2 linked regions of the Homo sapiens genome follow. The protein of the gene in region 2 interacts with the protein of the main gene of each other region in a biochemical or structural test. Each region holds a gene or a part of one and is shown on either strand. Other genes may lie near its edges.

The links. Proteins that work in one complex are often made in the same cells at the same time.
Region 1: the proteins of ERRFI1 (region 2) and WEE1 form a complex in vitro, tested with the Homo sapiens proteins (one study listed by BioGRID).

Annotation. Positions count from the first base shown.
Region 1 is NC_000011.10:9,568,715-9,576,913, reverse strand, and holds the start of WEE1 (wee1-like protein kinase), read right to left. Parts: upstream 3,245-8,199; 5' UTR 2,981-3,244; coding exon 2,405-2,980; intron 2,228-2,404; exon of another isoform or gene 1,539-2,227; intron 1,422-1,538; exon of another isoform or gene 1,405-1,421; intron 1,027-1,404; coding exon 821-1,026; intron 685-820; coding exon 621-684; intron 428-620; coding exon 255-427; intron 1-254. UniProt on the Homo sapiens protein: Acts as a negative regulator of entry into mitosis (G2 to M transition) by protecting the nucleus from cytoplasmically activated cyclin B1-complexed CDK1 before the onset of mitosis by mediating phosphorylation of CDK1 on 'Tyr-15'.
Region 2 is NC_000001.11:8,023,171-8,030,923, forward strand, and holds the start of ERRFI1 (ERBB receptor feedback inhibitor 1), read right to left. Parts: upstream 3,140-7,753; 5' UTR 2,988-3,139; intron 1-2,987.

The sequences.
Region 1 (8,199 bases), on a different chromosome or scaffold from region 2:
AGAATAAACTCCATTTTACTGTGAATTCATGGATGCTGACTAGAAATAAGAAATTTAAGTTAGGTTCCAAAATCAGACTCATATTATTCAACAAGTCCAATAAGAACTGATGGTATTAAGTGAAAAGGACCTGATTAAATCATTACAGCTTCTCAAAAGTTAGAGATGGAATTCAGTGTTTGACCAGCTGAAACCTTAATGTTAGTAACACCATAGGGGACAAAAGAGCAAAAGACAAAATGTTTAATACATACTCATCAACAGAGCCCGCCAATGGCTTTTTTGATCGCTTAATGGCATAAATGCATCCATCCAGCCTCTTCACACACTTAAATACAGAACCAAATTCTCCAGAGCCGATTTTCTCTAGCTCATGAAATTCTGTTGTATACCGGGACTTCATATTGCTTTCAGTAATTGTAATTCTCTGTAATAAAAAGTGTTTCCATATATGTAATACAAATATACGAAAACAGTTATTTCTTGCTATGGTGATAGGGCTATGTGTGAAATTTAAAAACCATTCTACCTTATGTGTTAATGCTTATTAACATATTCATAGCATGCTTTAAGTGGCAGAAAAGTAAATTTCAAAAAAATAAAAATAAAAAGCTATTTACCTTAGCAGGTCTTGTTTCATCTTCAAGCTCATAATCACTGGCTTCCATGTCTTCACCACAGGAACTAAAAAAAATGTTATTTTTCTATCAATATATCTGACAGATACATCCATGCCATTAAATAGGAACTAAATTTTGATAAGTATACCAAACCAATCTTAGGTTATTTGGAGAACCAAACTGTTAAATAAACGACTTACTCATTCCAATACGTTCTCTTTCTACGACGACACTGTCCTGAGGAATGAAGCAACAAAGAATCCGGAGTAAAAGGATTAATATTCACTTGAGGAGTCTGTCGCACATCAAATTCCCTTTTTCCTGATTTTTCTGTATCCATGAAGAGAGAACTACCCCGGAGTTTAACAGAGCTGGAATCAATTCCCCGAGCTTTGGAGAGCAAACTCTAGGGAAAGAAAAATACAAATACAATTTTTAGGATCCAAGTCCTATAGTCAGCCTTCTCAACCTAACCTTCAACGAGCCTTTCATAGGGCTGAATGCGTAGGTGAAAGCAACACACAAGCCTTTGTTAGAGTTCAAGCAAAATAAATTGTGGCTAATTTAGGAAGACTGAAGCTGGATATTAACTATCTTTTCTTGAAAAAAATAGCCAAGTAAAATCTGCCTCTAACCCTAAAAAGAATATAAATGCTGCCTAAAACTAAGTTCATTCTAGTGGCTAAAAGTTAACAAATTCTTTCAACCCATCCAAAAATAGAAAGCAGTCCGAGAGCCCCATAAAATCTCCCCTCCCCCATCTAGATAGGGCTTCCATAGCCACCTCCGCTGGACTCCTCCCCTCACTTCCAGAGGGATTTTGCCTTGAGCAAGTCGGCCAATAAACAGTACAGCTCGAAAGCACACAGATTGCCTAGGCTGATGACAAACAGTACATTGAAAACAAAACAAACTCACTTTAAAAGGTGCATCTTCCCTGTTAACCTTACAAATGCGAGGCTTGTCTTAATCTCTGGAAGTATCAGCTTTAAAATCTGCAGTTTTAAAAGTGGTCATCTGCGCAGTACTCGAAGGCCTTTCAAAACACAGGTGCTGAACACCTCCTTCTTTAAGATACCTTATCTACGGTAGGATGTTCCTAATCACACGGAGGCCGGCCAAACTCTGGGCACCGCAAACCCACGATAAAAACAAATGCTGGGCCAAGACCTTGTCCAGAAACAGGCCTCAGTACTGCCTGGACTTAGGATGAGTCTGTAGGACTGTAAATGCTTGGAAGGCCAGCCTTTACTCCCAAGTCCAAGCGTAGTCTCCCTGCATGCCCCAGACCTTTCCCCCATCCACGCCACACGACACGACACGATCAGGGCGGGACAATTATTTTTCTTTAAACTCCTTCTGCCCGCGCCGCCCAAATTACAGGCCCGATCGCCGCGTTTAAAAGGCATCCTATGGCTCGGGAGTGTCAGGTGGCCGGGCCGGCACCCTCCAGCATCCTCGCGAACCGCGTTATCGGTGCCGCACTCGGGGCTGACACGCTCGGGGCGGCCCGGACTCAACGGGCGGCAAATCCTTGGCCACCCGGACGGGCCGATCGGCCCCTTTGTAAGATGAAGTTCCAGACGAGGCCCATTGTTCAGTTACATAATCTCAACGGACAACCTCGGGGCAGGGCCAAACACAAGGGCTGCCAACTTTGGGGGGCGGCGCAGGAAAGCGAGGGGGGAGCGGCCGGCCGCTTCTGTAACCGAACCCAGGCAGCGGCGCTGGCCCCTCCGGCGCCGCGGCCCCGGCCGCCGGGTGCCCGCGCCCGCCGCTCTCACCTTGGGCGTGTGCGGGGTGTCGAAGAGTCGCAGCTTGCGGAAGGTCTTGTGTGGCGGGGTGCCCGGGTGGTCCGGCCGCGGCGAGCGGCGGCCTTCGCCCGCCCGGCGCGCCCCGCAACCCCGCGGCGACGCATCTCCTGGGCCGCCGCAGCGCACCGGCGAGAAAGAGCTACCCAGGAAGTAGGGGGCCGCCGGCGACTTGACCGGCGACGAGGAGCCGAAGCCCTCCTCCTCCCACGAGTCGCCCTCCGCCCCACCGCCCGCCTCGTCCGCGCCCGGGCAGGCGCCGGGCAGCAACAGGTCCTCCTCCAGCTCGCCGGGGCTGCCGGGGGCCGGCCCGGGCGAGCGGCGGCGCTCGGGCCCGGGCTCCGTGGGGCTCCGCGCGGGCGGCAGCGGCGAGTCGGGCTCTTGAAAGGCCGAGTCCTCCCCGGTGCTGTGGCCGCTGCCCTCCTCCTCCTCCTCTTCTTCCTCCTCCTCACAGTCGCTGCAGGGCGAGAAGATCAGCTTCTGCCGCAAGGTGCAGGCCGCCCCGGCGCGGCGGGGTGGCGGCGGCTGCTGTCGGCTCAGGAAGCTCATCGCGGCCCTGGGGACGGGGCCGAGGACAGGAGAGCGGAGGCCTGCGGGGTCCAGGACACTGCGGGCCTGGGGGCGGGTCCGCCACGTGCGGCTGGGCGCGCCTAGTCGCAGCCGCGGCGTCTCTGCGCGGCGGCGGCCTGCGGCTCCGGGGCGCTCGGGCTGCGGACGGTGGCGGCAGCGGCGGCGCGGACTTTCCGGCAGAGGCGGGGCGGCCCGAGCACCGAGGCTGAGGTCTCCTCAGGTCCAGTCTCAGGTTCGGGCTCCGCGGCTTCCCGCGACCGTTAACCACGTGAGTGCCCAGTCCACCAATCCCAGTGCAGCTCCGGGTTTGAAAAAAAAAGGAGGGCGCGACGTAGCCCGCGGGGGAAGGACCAGCTACGCGATTTTGGCGGGAACCCGCTGGCTCCACCCCCGGCTCGGCGCCAGCCAAGTCTGGGCGGGCTGTGGTGTTCCGGGCCTATGAGCGAGCCTGGGGCGGCGGGGGGCCCGGCCCGGCGCCGCCCGAACACCGCCCGGACGGGGCTGGGCCTTCTGGGAGGGGCAAAAGAGAGCTGGATTCGCCTAAGCCGACCCGAAAGCCGGCCTGGACGCACCCCCCTCGCTGCTCCTCCGGTGCTGGGGGATCTGAAGAGGGGCAGGCGGCCGGGCAGCGCCTCCGGGTCTCTGCGAGCTGGGAAGAGCCAGGGACCGAATGGCCTTCGGCCGCTGCCCTCGGAGGCCGCTTCTTGCCCCTCGTCCCCTGGGGCGAGCCACTGGGGCGTAGTGGGCGTGGCAGTGGGCAGCCACGTTCAGGGTCGAGGTCTGAGCCGGAAATGGTGACTCGGGCCTCGGGACCTTTCTGAACTGCGGGAGCCGATGTGCTTAGGCTGGACACTGGCTGGGAGGAGGCCTCCGAGCCCCATTATTTCCCCGGGGTGGGTGACTGTTAGGGGCGGGTGTCAGCACAGCGAGAAGAGCTCTCCCAAGCAGGGGTCCACCTCTGCCGACCTTGTCCGCGGCCAAAAGAAACAGCAGCACAGTTGCCCACCACGAAACCAAGTGCCCGGCACACGATCTCCGTGTTTACATTTGTTCGCCAGCACGTGGGCATGCGTTGGCAAAACCGATTGGCCCGGCTCGCGGCAAACTCAAACGCAATTTTAAAAAATTTCCCTAGTGCTTCGTTAAACTGATTTAATCTGTCCCTTAATGCACTTACACGTTTCTTCCAGTTTTCTTTTTTCTTTCTTTGTTTATTTATTTTTTTTTTTTTTTCTGAGACGGGGTCTTGCTCTGTCACCCAGGCTGGAGTGCAGTGGCACGATCTCGGCTCACTACAACCTGCAACCTCCGCCTTTAGAGTTCAAGCGATTCTCATGCCTCAGCCACCCGAGTAGCTGGGATTACAGGCGGCTGCCACCACACCTGGCTAATTTTTGTATTTTTAGTAGAGACGAACTTCCCAATGTTGGCCAGGCTGGTCTCCAACTCCTGATCTCAAGTGATCCGCCCGCCTCGGCCTCTCAAAGTGCTGGAATTACAGACGTGAACCACCGCTCCCGGCCTCTTCCAGTTTTCTGTTGTAAACAACCCCGTGGTGTATATGCTTCCTTCTCCATGTTTTTTGTTTGGTTTGGTTTTTTTCGACACGGAGTCTCGCTCTGTCGCCCCAGGCTGGAGTGCAGTGGCGCGATCTCGGCTCACTGCAGCCCCCACCTCCCGGGTTCTCGGGTTCCAGCGATTCTCCTGTCTCCCGGGTAGCTGGTATTACAAGCACATACCAGGCCTGGCCAATTTTTGTATTTTTACAAAATGCAAAATACGGAGTTTCACCATGTTGGCAGGCTGGTCTCAAACTCCTGACCTCAGGTGATCTGCCCGCCTCGGCCTCCCAAAGTGCTAGGATTACAGGCGTGAGCCACCGCGCCTGGCCTTTTTAAAATACTCTTTTGGATACCTCCCTGGAGTTAGAATTCCTCAGTCAAAGGATATAAACTGGCAAACTCCCCCTCCAGAAACACAATACATTCTCACTAGCAGTGGATTAGAGCACACTCTGTGAATTCAGGACATCAGTGGATGTTCGTTGATGTGGTTTTGTTGTTTTGATTCATATTGTTGAACAGTTGTCATGGGTTTAATGATAATTTACATTTATCTCTATTGCCTATTTTTCTTATTGTTAGCACTTTATGCATATTAACACTTTGTCATATATGTTGTTCTAATGCTTTTCAAAGGCTAAATAAACTCAAGCTGAATTTTTCTTGAAACACACGGTAGTACTTAACACATCAAATCGGGAATTTCCTGAGATCACACAACTGAAGACACAGTGAAGGATCAACAGCTGTCTTTTCTCCTAACATTTGCTAACTGGTGTATAAATGTGTTTTTTATATGGTCATGCAAACTTAATTTTAAGCTCTTGGAGGACAAGAATTCTAGACTTGTATAAGGAGAGTTAGTCAATGATCCACAGTGGCCAAAGCCAAGGAGTGATTTTCAGAACCCTTGCTCCAACACTTCCCCTCCTGCCACTCCTTTTTTTTAAATTTTTATTTTTCGAGACAGGGTCTCACTCTGTCCACCCTGTCTCAAAGTGGAGTACAGTGGTGCAATCACGGCTCTGTAGCCTCGATCTCCCCAGGCTCAAGAGATCCTCCCACCTCACCCTCCCAAATAGCTGGGACTAATGATGTGTGCTACCACGCCCAGCTAATATTTGCATTTTTAGTAGAGACTCTGTTTCACCATGTTGCCCAGGCTGGTCTAGAACTCCTGGGCTCAAGCAATCTGCCCGTCTCCGTCTCCCAAAGTGCTGGAATTACAGGCATGAGCCACCATATTGCCCAGGCTGTGGGCCCCCTCCTGCCACTCCTGATGACAAATATAATTATTTGATATAATTGACATTTTCTCAATTTATTATGAAGCATAAATAAAAATAGAGAACCCTACTTTTATCGATCTGTAACATAAACTGCATGTGAAAATAGTGTGCTTTCTAAGTAAATGGGACTTTAAAGCCCTTTAGTTGCCTCTCCACAACTAGACTGATGCTCCTAAACTCCTCCTATGTAAGAATTCCGTATCTCTGTTCTCACGTCCCCTCCCTCACTCTTTGCTCTTTCACAACACCTGGCTTTATTTCCTTAGCAGGCTTATTTCTATCTCAAAGTACGTTGTTAGTTTATTACTATCTCCTTCTAGAAAAATAAGGTCCCCGAGGGTAGGGGACCCTTGTTTATTGCAGTATTCTAACGTGGATTAGGCGTTCACTCCCTTGTGAGTGATAAAAGAGCCCTTATTTAAATAATTGTTGGTTTATTCGCTTCCTAAATTGGCACATTTGCAGATAAGTTTGCCTATTTAAGATTTTGAATCGGGTGTGGTAGTTGTTCACACCTGCAATCCCAACACTTTGGGAGGTCAAGACAGGAGGATCACTTGAGGCCAGGAGTTCAAGACCAGCCTGGACAACATAGTGAGACCTCACCTCTACTAAAAATTTAAAAATTAGCTGGGCATGGTGTCACATGCCTGTGGTCCCAGCTACTCAGGAGGCTGAAGTGGGAGGATCCCTTGAGCCTGAGAGATGAAGGCTGCAGTGAGCTGTGATTGTGCCACTGCACTCCAGCCTAGGCAGCAGACCGAGAACTATCTCAGGAAAAAAAAAAAAAAATTGAACAGAGATCACCACTCTAGTACTCTATTTAATGCAAGATTGTAGAGGTAGCAGCCATCACACTTCCTATTTTTCCCCATGGTTTTTCCCCACTCCAGTAACAAAAACTTAAATGGTACAAAATTCTCCCACCTATCCCTTCAAATCCCAGCCCAGTTCCCCTTCCTGAAGGTAAACACTCTTAACAATGTTTTGTTTTGTTTTGTCAACTCCTACTTTGCCACCTGTCTGCGTCCCTAAATGGGAGGTCTTTGAAGTAGGCTAAGGCAGGCAGAAGGGCTTGGGTTGTGGATGGGAAGGGAAGAGTTCTTGGTCCACAGACCCAGGACTTTGAAGTCCTCACACAGAATCGAAGAGGTAAGTTCACAATAAATGTGTAGAATGATTGGGGGAAATAATTTTTTTTTTTTTTTTCCTTGAGACAAGGGTTTGCTCTATTGCCCAGGCTGGAGTGCAGTGGTGCGTTCACGGCTCACTGCAACCTCCCCTTCTGGGCTCAAGCAATTCTCCCACCTCAGCCTCTTGAGTAGCCAGGACTACAGGCAAGTGCCACTACACCTGGTGAATTTTTGTATTTTTTGTAGAGACCGGGTCTCACCATGTTGCCCAGGCTGGTCTTGAACTCCTGAGCTCAAGTGATCTGCCTACCTCAGCCTCTCACAGGGTTGGGATTACAGGTGTGAGCCACTGCACCTGGCTGAAGGAATTTTTTTTTTAAGTTGAAACCAAGACTCAGTGCTAGAGCCATTTCCTCTGTGAAGCCTTTCCTGACTCTCCATTCCCTACTCCAGACTTTCCACCGCACCCAGCACGGACTATGTAACACTCTTACTTTGTTTACTTGTCTGGTTTTCACACTGCCCAGGGCAGGGTCCAAACTGTGTTTGTCTTCAGAGCTCCAGCAACCAGCACTGTGCCTTGGCCCCTGAGAAAGTGCTTAATAAATGTTTCTAGAATAATTTAATGAAAATCCAGTGATCTTTAAAACAAAAGTGCCAAAATAACAAAACAAAACAAAAGTGAGAAACCCAGGCCCTGCCTCTTCAAGCTGAGAACATGGCACAATATTATGGTTTAACTGTAGCAACATCCTAACTGAAATTTTAAGTGACTGTTCTGATTTTTAAAATTTCACGCTCCTCTGAGTAAAGCACACACTGTACTGGAGAGATGGGTTACACCCGCCTGCCCCAGGCCGTATCTAATTCAAATTTCCAGTTCCTTTCTCCACCCAATGTTGTTTCTAACTAATGTTGCTAGGCAACTTTTGCAGAATCCACATGCTTGTGGTAATGTTGAAAGAACTGAGTAAAAATCTTGCCTCTAGCTTCTGGGATAACAAACCTAACCTGTTTATCCTCTTTAGATTCATGACTTCGCACGTAAAGGGCTTTAAAACTATTTTCAACCCATTCACCTTCCTTGGCAACAAAACAAGCAAGATTCTTCCCATGAAGATTTAAAACTGAGATTTCTAAATCACCTTCTCAAGTATTTTTAATACATATAGCACATGAATATGCATGCATATTCCTATTAACATGAGCCTTGC
Region 2 (7,753 bases):
TCTGGGGTATTGAATAAGAGCTTTTGGATAATGTCTTCCAATCCTTACCTTCCTATTGTTTCCAAGTTGAAAAGGGCTCCATTTCTGTAGCCAAAGCCCCACATTTTTTTGTTTGTTTATTTTTTAAAGACAGAGTCTCACTCTGTCACCAGGCTGTAGTGCAGTCGTGTGATCTTGGCTTACTGCAACCTCTGCCTCCCAGGCTCAAGCAATCCTCCCACCTCAGCCTCCTGAGTAGCTGGGACTACAGACGTGTGCCACCATACCCAGCTAATTTTTGTGTTTTTTTGTAGTGACAGGGTTTCACCATGTTGCCCAGGTTGGTCTCATACTCTTGGGCTCAAGCCATCTGCCCGCCTTGGCCTCCCAAAGTGCTGAGATTACAGGCCTGAGCCACTGAGCCCGGCCAAAAGCCCCACATTTTAAAGACACATTCATTGAGACCTGGAAGAGTGGTCTTTTCGTAATATTGCCCAATTTTATGGTGTGAGGAATTGGACTACAGTATCAACAAAGACTTGAAATCTGAGAATCCTCCCCACCACCTTCTGAAATCTGAACCCCCCTCAGTAACTTTTCCCTATCTTAAAACTAATTGTTAAGGTAGTAACTTACATTTAGGACCCTCAAACTCATTCGCCTCATCTACCTTTACAAAGCACGTGTTTATGCTGTGTGAACAATGCCAGAATACCACAACTGGACTGCGTTTATGTAGCGAGTTCTTTATTAGCTTTTGTATAGCCAGACACCCGCAAAGGATGCTAAATGTATCCAAATGGATCCAGATGATGAGGTACCAATTCAAATTTATTTAGATCAAGAGCAGAGTTGTTTCTCTGGCAGAGGGAGCCTATGCCATTCCAATTCCTGGAGTTACCCCTGACACCTCCTTTCCTTCCTCTGCTCCTTTCTAAAGCAATCTGATGGTATGCAGACAATCAGGTCAGTTTCAAGCATGTTAGATTGTGCCTGTAATTTACGCAAATTGCTTTGAAAAGCCACCATTAGTTTCAGCAGAAAGGAAGTATTATCTAGCTCAACTTTTGAGAAGCAGCAGTCAAGAGGTATTTTCACACAAAAACTCAAGCATAATTAAATCTTATAAAGAGTGACCAGTATATATTGTGAACTGCAAGTAGGAAAACCGATGATTGAAACAACAGTTTTACCCGTCAAAAATATCAATAATTCAGGCATTTCATAACAGCCATAAAAAAATTAAACAGATTTGCTTTCCAACCCTTATCAATGACTGCTCCAATCCTGCTGAGCCTTAAAAGGTAAAACATGCTTTCATGCAATTATTTATCAACATCAACTATGTGCAAGGCTGCATAAGATAGAAGCTATACAAGGCAGAGTGCCTACCCTTAAGGAGTTTACAATCTAATATATCTGTCAGGTTATAAATCGTTAGTCTAAGACCTCTATCACTTATTATCGAGTGTCCCCTGGAACACACAGGTGAAAATAAACTTCTGCTTGAAGCAAAGGGAATGACAAATAGTTTCTGAAGTCCATGCTAAATCCTTTGTTATTTTTCTTCAAACTTGCTAATATCTGGAAAAGAACTTGCTTGATAACATATTGGTAACCAATTATAGCCAGCATGTTAGCAAGAAACCAGCTTCTTTTATTTTGGTCTTTGCAAAATTTGATCATTTGCTGATACCTAGCCTGTCTTTGGTCTCTGTTCAAATAAAATTTCACTTAAAACTGTATATTGTAATTACAGAAATATAAGAAAAGAAATGCAGTTAAAAAAATAGGTACGGTGAACTTGGGATGTTCAGTCTCAACAAATGTGTGTACCCACTGCATTCTTACACATTTATAAAAGGTTGAACATTTGTTCTGGAAGGGAAAAAAAGGGCATTTTAACCTCACCTTTCTTCACCCCTGACAGTTGCCTAGAAACCAGTCTTGCCCTACCTGTGTTGCAGGTGTACCTCAAGTCACCGACACATCTCTTTTAAAGCTACAGTCTCCATTCTGACTTAAGTTTATGACTAACCATCTATTCATATTTTTATCAGGTAAGAGACTGGTTTCTTTCAAGCAATGATGAAATCCTAATAAAGACTTAGCAAGCACTAATACAGCACCATTCACGGTTAAAGAGTCATCTAATTTGTACAGGGCTATGATATACATATAAATACACACACAAAATTCCCAATAAGCATTCACGTCTTGAACACATAATTTTGCAGTCCGATTCCATTCAAAGCCGTACTTAAGACACTCAGAGCAAAGAATCACGTTTCTAGGAGAGAAGGAAGAGTTCAGAACAGCTTAGACGAATTTTTAAATACTGATTTCGGCATTACCATCGTCGCTGTGAGATTAGGCAGAGGGAGCGGGGCTGACCGCCAGAGAACCGGTACCAACCACCGCAAGCAATCGCCGAGCCTCCCACCCCAGCTTTCAAGACAGGATTTACGGGTACACGGTGTGAACAAGACAACGCAACCCCCTTTTTACAAATAAAAAAAAAATCAAACAAGCCCCCAGGCCCGAAGACGCTCATCCCCGCCGGGCAACCCCGCGAGCGCAGGCTGCGGGACGAGGACCTTCATGCTCGCCGCTCCCGAACCCCCGTCCGCTCCTGCGGTCCCGGTGCTGCGGGGACGTATCCCGGGCGCTCGGGTGCATGGCCCCGGCCAGCCGAGGGGCCGCGCGACGACCACAGCCGGCGTGGAGAAGGCGGCGGGCGCCGGCACTTCGCGGCGTCCCCAGGCCCGGGCTGCGCCGCCGGGGAGGGTCCCGCTCTCCACACCTCAATGGGGAGAAGCCCGCGAGCGACCGGCCGGCCTCTCCCTCCATCCCAGAGACTCCGCGTCGCGGCGACCCTCCCCGCGCCCTCCACGCCCCCGCCCTCGCGTCGGGGAGCCGCCTGGATCCCGGCGCCCGGCGCGGGGCCCCCTGAGGGAACGGAGCGCTGCGTGGCCCTCCCCACCCCCTCAGCGCGCCAGGCCCCTTACCCCGGAGGAGCGGCGGCTGCCCCGCGGCGCCCTCCCGCGCATGTCCGTCCCGGCTGGCTCAGCGCCGCGGGCTCAGGGGCCCGGACATCGCGCAGGCGCCTCTTGCTGGCTCGCGCTCCCGCTAGCACTCTGCCTCGCACCGGACCGCCGTCGCCGCGGCTGCCGCCGCCGCCTCTATATATAGCATAGGCCGCCGGGCCGTGAGGTCGCCGCGTCCCGCCCCGCCTCCTCCCGCAGCCAATCAGGGCGCGCGCCGCTTAAAGGGGCGATGCCGTGGCCGAGGCGTTGCGCCGGGCCCACCGTGGCGTATCGCGGCGCTGCAGGGAGCCGGCTTTGTCTCCCGGAGAGGCGTCTCCGGGCTGACCGCGGCCGCAGCTCCGCTCCTCTGCCTGAGCCGTGCGGCAGCCCTGGGAGCCTCTCAACGCCGAGCTTTCCTCAGAAGCCCGCGGCGACCCGGGCCTCGGCCGCTGTTCCTGCCCGAACTGAGGGCACATCGCGCTTCGCGCGGGATTTCCCATAAATTCAGGCTCCGGGCAAGATTGTGTGTTTTTTCCTCTCCGCGGGCCGCCGCTGGCCGTGTGGGCCGAAGAAGCCCTGGAGGGGGAGAGGGGAGCCGCTCTCGACTGGGCTTGCGGCGTGGGAGGGACAGTGAGGGACACTTAGGGACTGTGTGGGGCAGTGAAGGATAGTGTGGGATGATGAGGGACCGTGTGGACCGGTGAGCGACTGTGTGGGACAGTGCGGGACGATGAGAGACGGTGTGGGACGGTGAGGGACAGTGCGGGACGATGAGGGACAGTGAGGGACTGTGTAGGACAGTGAGGGACAGTGTGGGACGGTGAGGGACTGTGGGACAGTGAGGGACTTTGGGACTGTGAGGGACTCGGACAGTGAAGGATGGCAAGGGACAGTGTGGGACAGTATGGGACAGTGGACAGTGAGGCACTGTGAGGGGCGGTGAGGGACAATGAAGGATGTCAAGGGACAGTGTGGGACAGTGGACGGTGAGGTACTGTGAGGGGCGGTGAGGGACAGTGTGGGACTGTGAGGGATGGCGAGGGACAGAGTAGGACAGCAAGGGAGGATGAGGGGACAGAGTGGGCCGGCGTGGGGCGGTGAGGCTACGCGGGGGGAACCCAGGGCTCCTCTGACTGCGTTGGAATATGGAGGAAAGGTCCTGCTCGAGGTTGAGCCCTTCAGGGTCGCTGTGGGTTTCCAGGAGGAGCTCCCTCACTACTGACTTAGGGGGCCCTCGGCTTCCCAGGTTTGTGTTTACTCAGGCGACCTGAGCTGGCCCCGACGTCTTTTGGCTTTGGAGAGGCCACGGATGCCCAAGGACAAAGCCCCAGCGGGCCTGTGGGAGGAGGTTTCTCGGGGCGCCAGTGATGCAACTTAGGCTTATAGTTTAACCGTAAAATAAATAATACAAATGATAACAAACCAAGAGTGACTAAAGTCAGAAAAAAAGCAAACAGACGGAAACCCTCTAGTTTTAACTAGAACAAATTCCCTGGCTGGTCCTCTGTTGGGAGAGCCCAGAGACCTGTCGCTGACCTCTAGCCTCCTGGAGCCCCTGCTTGCACTTCAGCAATAATGCCTGATAGTTAGACACTGATCACTAGCTAATTGGGGTAGTTTAACATATGGAATGAGATTCTGGCCTTATTATCAGGTTAACTATTAACTCTACACCCCATGAAATGATTTGCCTTTCCCCCACTATTATTTACTTACATTCTTTTTAATTTAATTCAAAGGCCTAATTTTGAATTCAAGGCCTTAAGCACGAAAAGGAAAAAAAAAAGAAAAAGAATCTGAAGTATCTTTGCCCTCTCTCACTTGCAAAACAAACGAACGTTTTGCAGAGAGAAATCTGGCTTCCTTTCTGATGGCTCTTCTGGCTTACAAGGGGCTGTTGGGTCATTTTCATGCCTATGCCATTTGTCAACAATTCAGTTAACCTATCTTCTTACAGCCATTCATTTAGTATTATTTTAGGATGATGGAAATGAGTCACAACTAATTGCAGAGTTCCTTACCAACTAACTAGGTTTTTTGATCCAAAGAAAATCTGTCCCGATTTTCCTCCCATTTTGGCGTCATTTATGTTTGTGGCTTACCCATATGCTGTTATCAGTGTAAAAAAAAGATGAGTGTGAGAACTTGCCAGGGTACATCTTTTCAAACCTCACGGGACAGGATTTACTGAATGGGCACCTAAAGGAGCTCAAGTTTCATCTGAAAGGAGCCCTGGCTATACTATTTCAAGTCACTACAATACAGTTGTAATTTGTGCTTCGGCCTTATTGGCGTGCTTTTACATTCCCCTATTCATAAAACAGTGATAATCACCAGAGCAACCATCAAACACACCCCTTCTTTAGAGAAAGAAGATCAACAGGATACTCACTCTACAGTTGTGAGCTGTATGATGTGCTAATGTTTTGGTAAATTATCAAAAATCATAAAATCCCATGAGTAATATGTGATTAATCTGATTTTTCTATTTTAAACAACTTGCAAAATAAACTTGATTTATTCATTTTTTGGGGAAAACCTGTTTAGCCACTAGTTTGCTGTGTTTAGCTTGCAGTTATATAATATGGCTTTCTCAGCTGTGGAAGAATTACATGAGAAGACTTACACCCCACAAATTTTTTATCTAATAGTCTGTTAATGATGTGTTATAATAACATTGATATGTCAATAATATTGTAGGACATCTTGGGAAGAGTTTAAAAGCAAAACGCTAAGCATCTTGAAGTAATACTAGCATGTTGTGTTTATTAAGTGATTATTCATTGACCTTTAATAGATTAGAACACTACACCAGAGATTCGGGGAAATAGTCTCTTTTTCCTGAACCCAATTTGTTTTAAATTATCTCCAGAAAAGCATGACATTTAAAGTAAGACAGTGTTTTTTATATCTCTCACAGTCTGCTTAATTTTGAGGCCATTTTCCAAGGAATTTATATTAGTTGATTTTTTTAATAGAACTCAACATCTAAAACGTTAGACTTGCATCACATTGACCCAAATTGTCACTTTTCACTTGCCCTTCTTTCAGTGTAAGAAGAAGCTGTCTTTGGAGTGAGAACAAGGGTGAGGTTCTGGCTCAGAAACCTTAGAATCACAGACACTGTTTTCCTGAAAACATTGCTTCTTTCTCTCATCTCAAAGAAATGCCACAAGTCGTGTGTAAGTATAACATGCTGGACAGGTCCTTATTAAATTTATATTTGTATTTTGATATTATTTTAATCCTGTAGAAGAACATATACATTTTGGTGTTTATTCTTCTTGATTATAGAAGTTTTTGTGTTTCTACTTTGTTTATAATAAATATTTTAAAGTTAAACACATTTTGTATGTCCCTCTTGGTCCTAGAGCCTTTGTTTCTGTCTATACATAATATAAATGTATATTATGCACTTAAACTATTTTATAGATAAGTGTGCAATAAAAAAATACAACCAAGAGAGGAATTACATTTCCTAGAGGGTGTTTGCTTAGTGTGCTACATTGCATTTTGGGAACATTCATATTTCTGTTCATGGATGTTTCCAAAACGCATGCATGTACACACACACACACACACACACACACTCAACATATAAAATAAACTCTAGGTGATTCTTTTCATTTTTTTGAGACGGAGTCTCACTCTGTCCCCAGGTTGGAGTGCAGTGGCGCCATCTCAGCTCACTGCAACCTCCGCCTCCCGGGTTCAAGCGATTGTCCTGCCTCAGCCTCCCTAGTAGCTGGGACTACAGGTGGGTGCCACCACGCCCGGCTAATTTTTGTATTTTTAGTAGAGACGGGGTTTCACCATGTTGGCCAGGATGGTCTTGATCTCTTGACCTCATGATCCGCCCGCCTCGGCCTCCCAAAGTGCTGGGATTACAGGCTTGAGCCACCGCGCCTGGTGAACTCTGGATGATTCTAAAACACACATGCTGATAAGAGCCTAGATTCACCCATGAGGAGTACCACAACCCCAAAGAGATTTCCATGGACTTTTCACTTTTCAACCTTAGTGGCCATTTGAAAAGTAGCACAGAAAATATATTTCTTGGCAACATTTCATTTTTCCTTTTTCTGTTTTTTTGTCTTTTTTGTTTTGTTTTGTTTTTTATTTGTTTTTTGAGACAGAGTTTTGCTCTTGTTGCCCAGGCTGGAGTGCAATGGCGTGATTTGGGCTCACCGCAACCTCCGCCTCCTAGATTCAAGCGATTCTCCTGCCTCAGCCTCCCGAGTAGCTGGGATTATAGGCATGCACCACCACGTCGGCTAATTTTGTGCTTTTAGTAGAGACGGGGTTTCTCTGTGTTGGTCAGACTGGTCTTGAACTCCCGGCCTCAAGTGATCTCCCTGTCTTGGCTTCCCAAAGTACTGAAATTATAGGCGTGAGCCACCATGCCCAGCCCATTTTTCCATTAGTTAATTAGGGGTACTGCTCTCCCTTCCTAGTTTTTCCCCAAAAAGGATACTTCGCCTGTGGAAGTCTGAGCAGGTTGGTTTTAATTTCCCAGTCTATTATTTTAAGTGTTAGGGCCAGGGCTTCACTGCTTTTTCTTAGTATGAGTTTTAGACAGGCTGTTCGCGTAGTTGTTTATTTTTAACTGAGCTACCTTTCATTTACCAAATGCTCTCTTAACATTAAATGCTATTGGTGGTTATTATGTTTCTAATTCTATCCCATCTTTAAAATGTGTAACTGTTGTAAATTTTTTAGTCTTGTGGATACATTAATTAATTAATTTT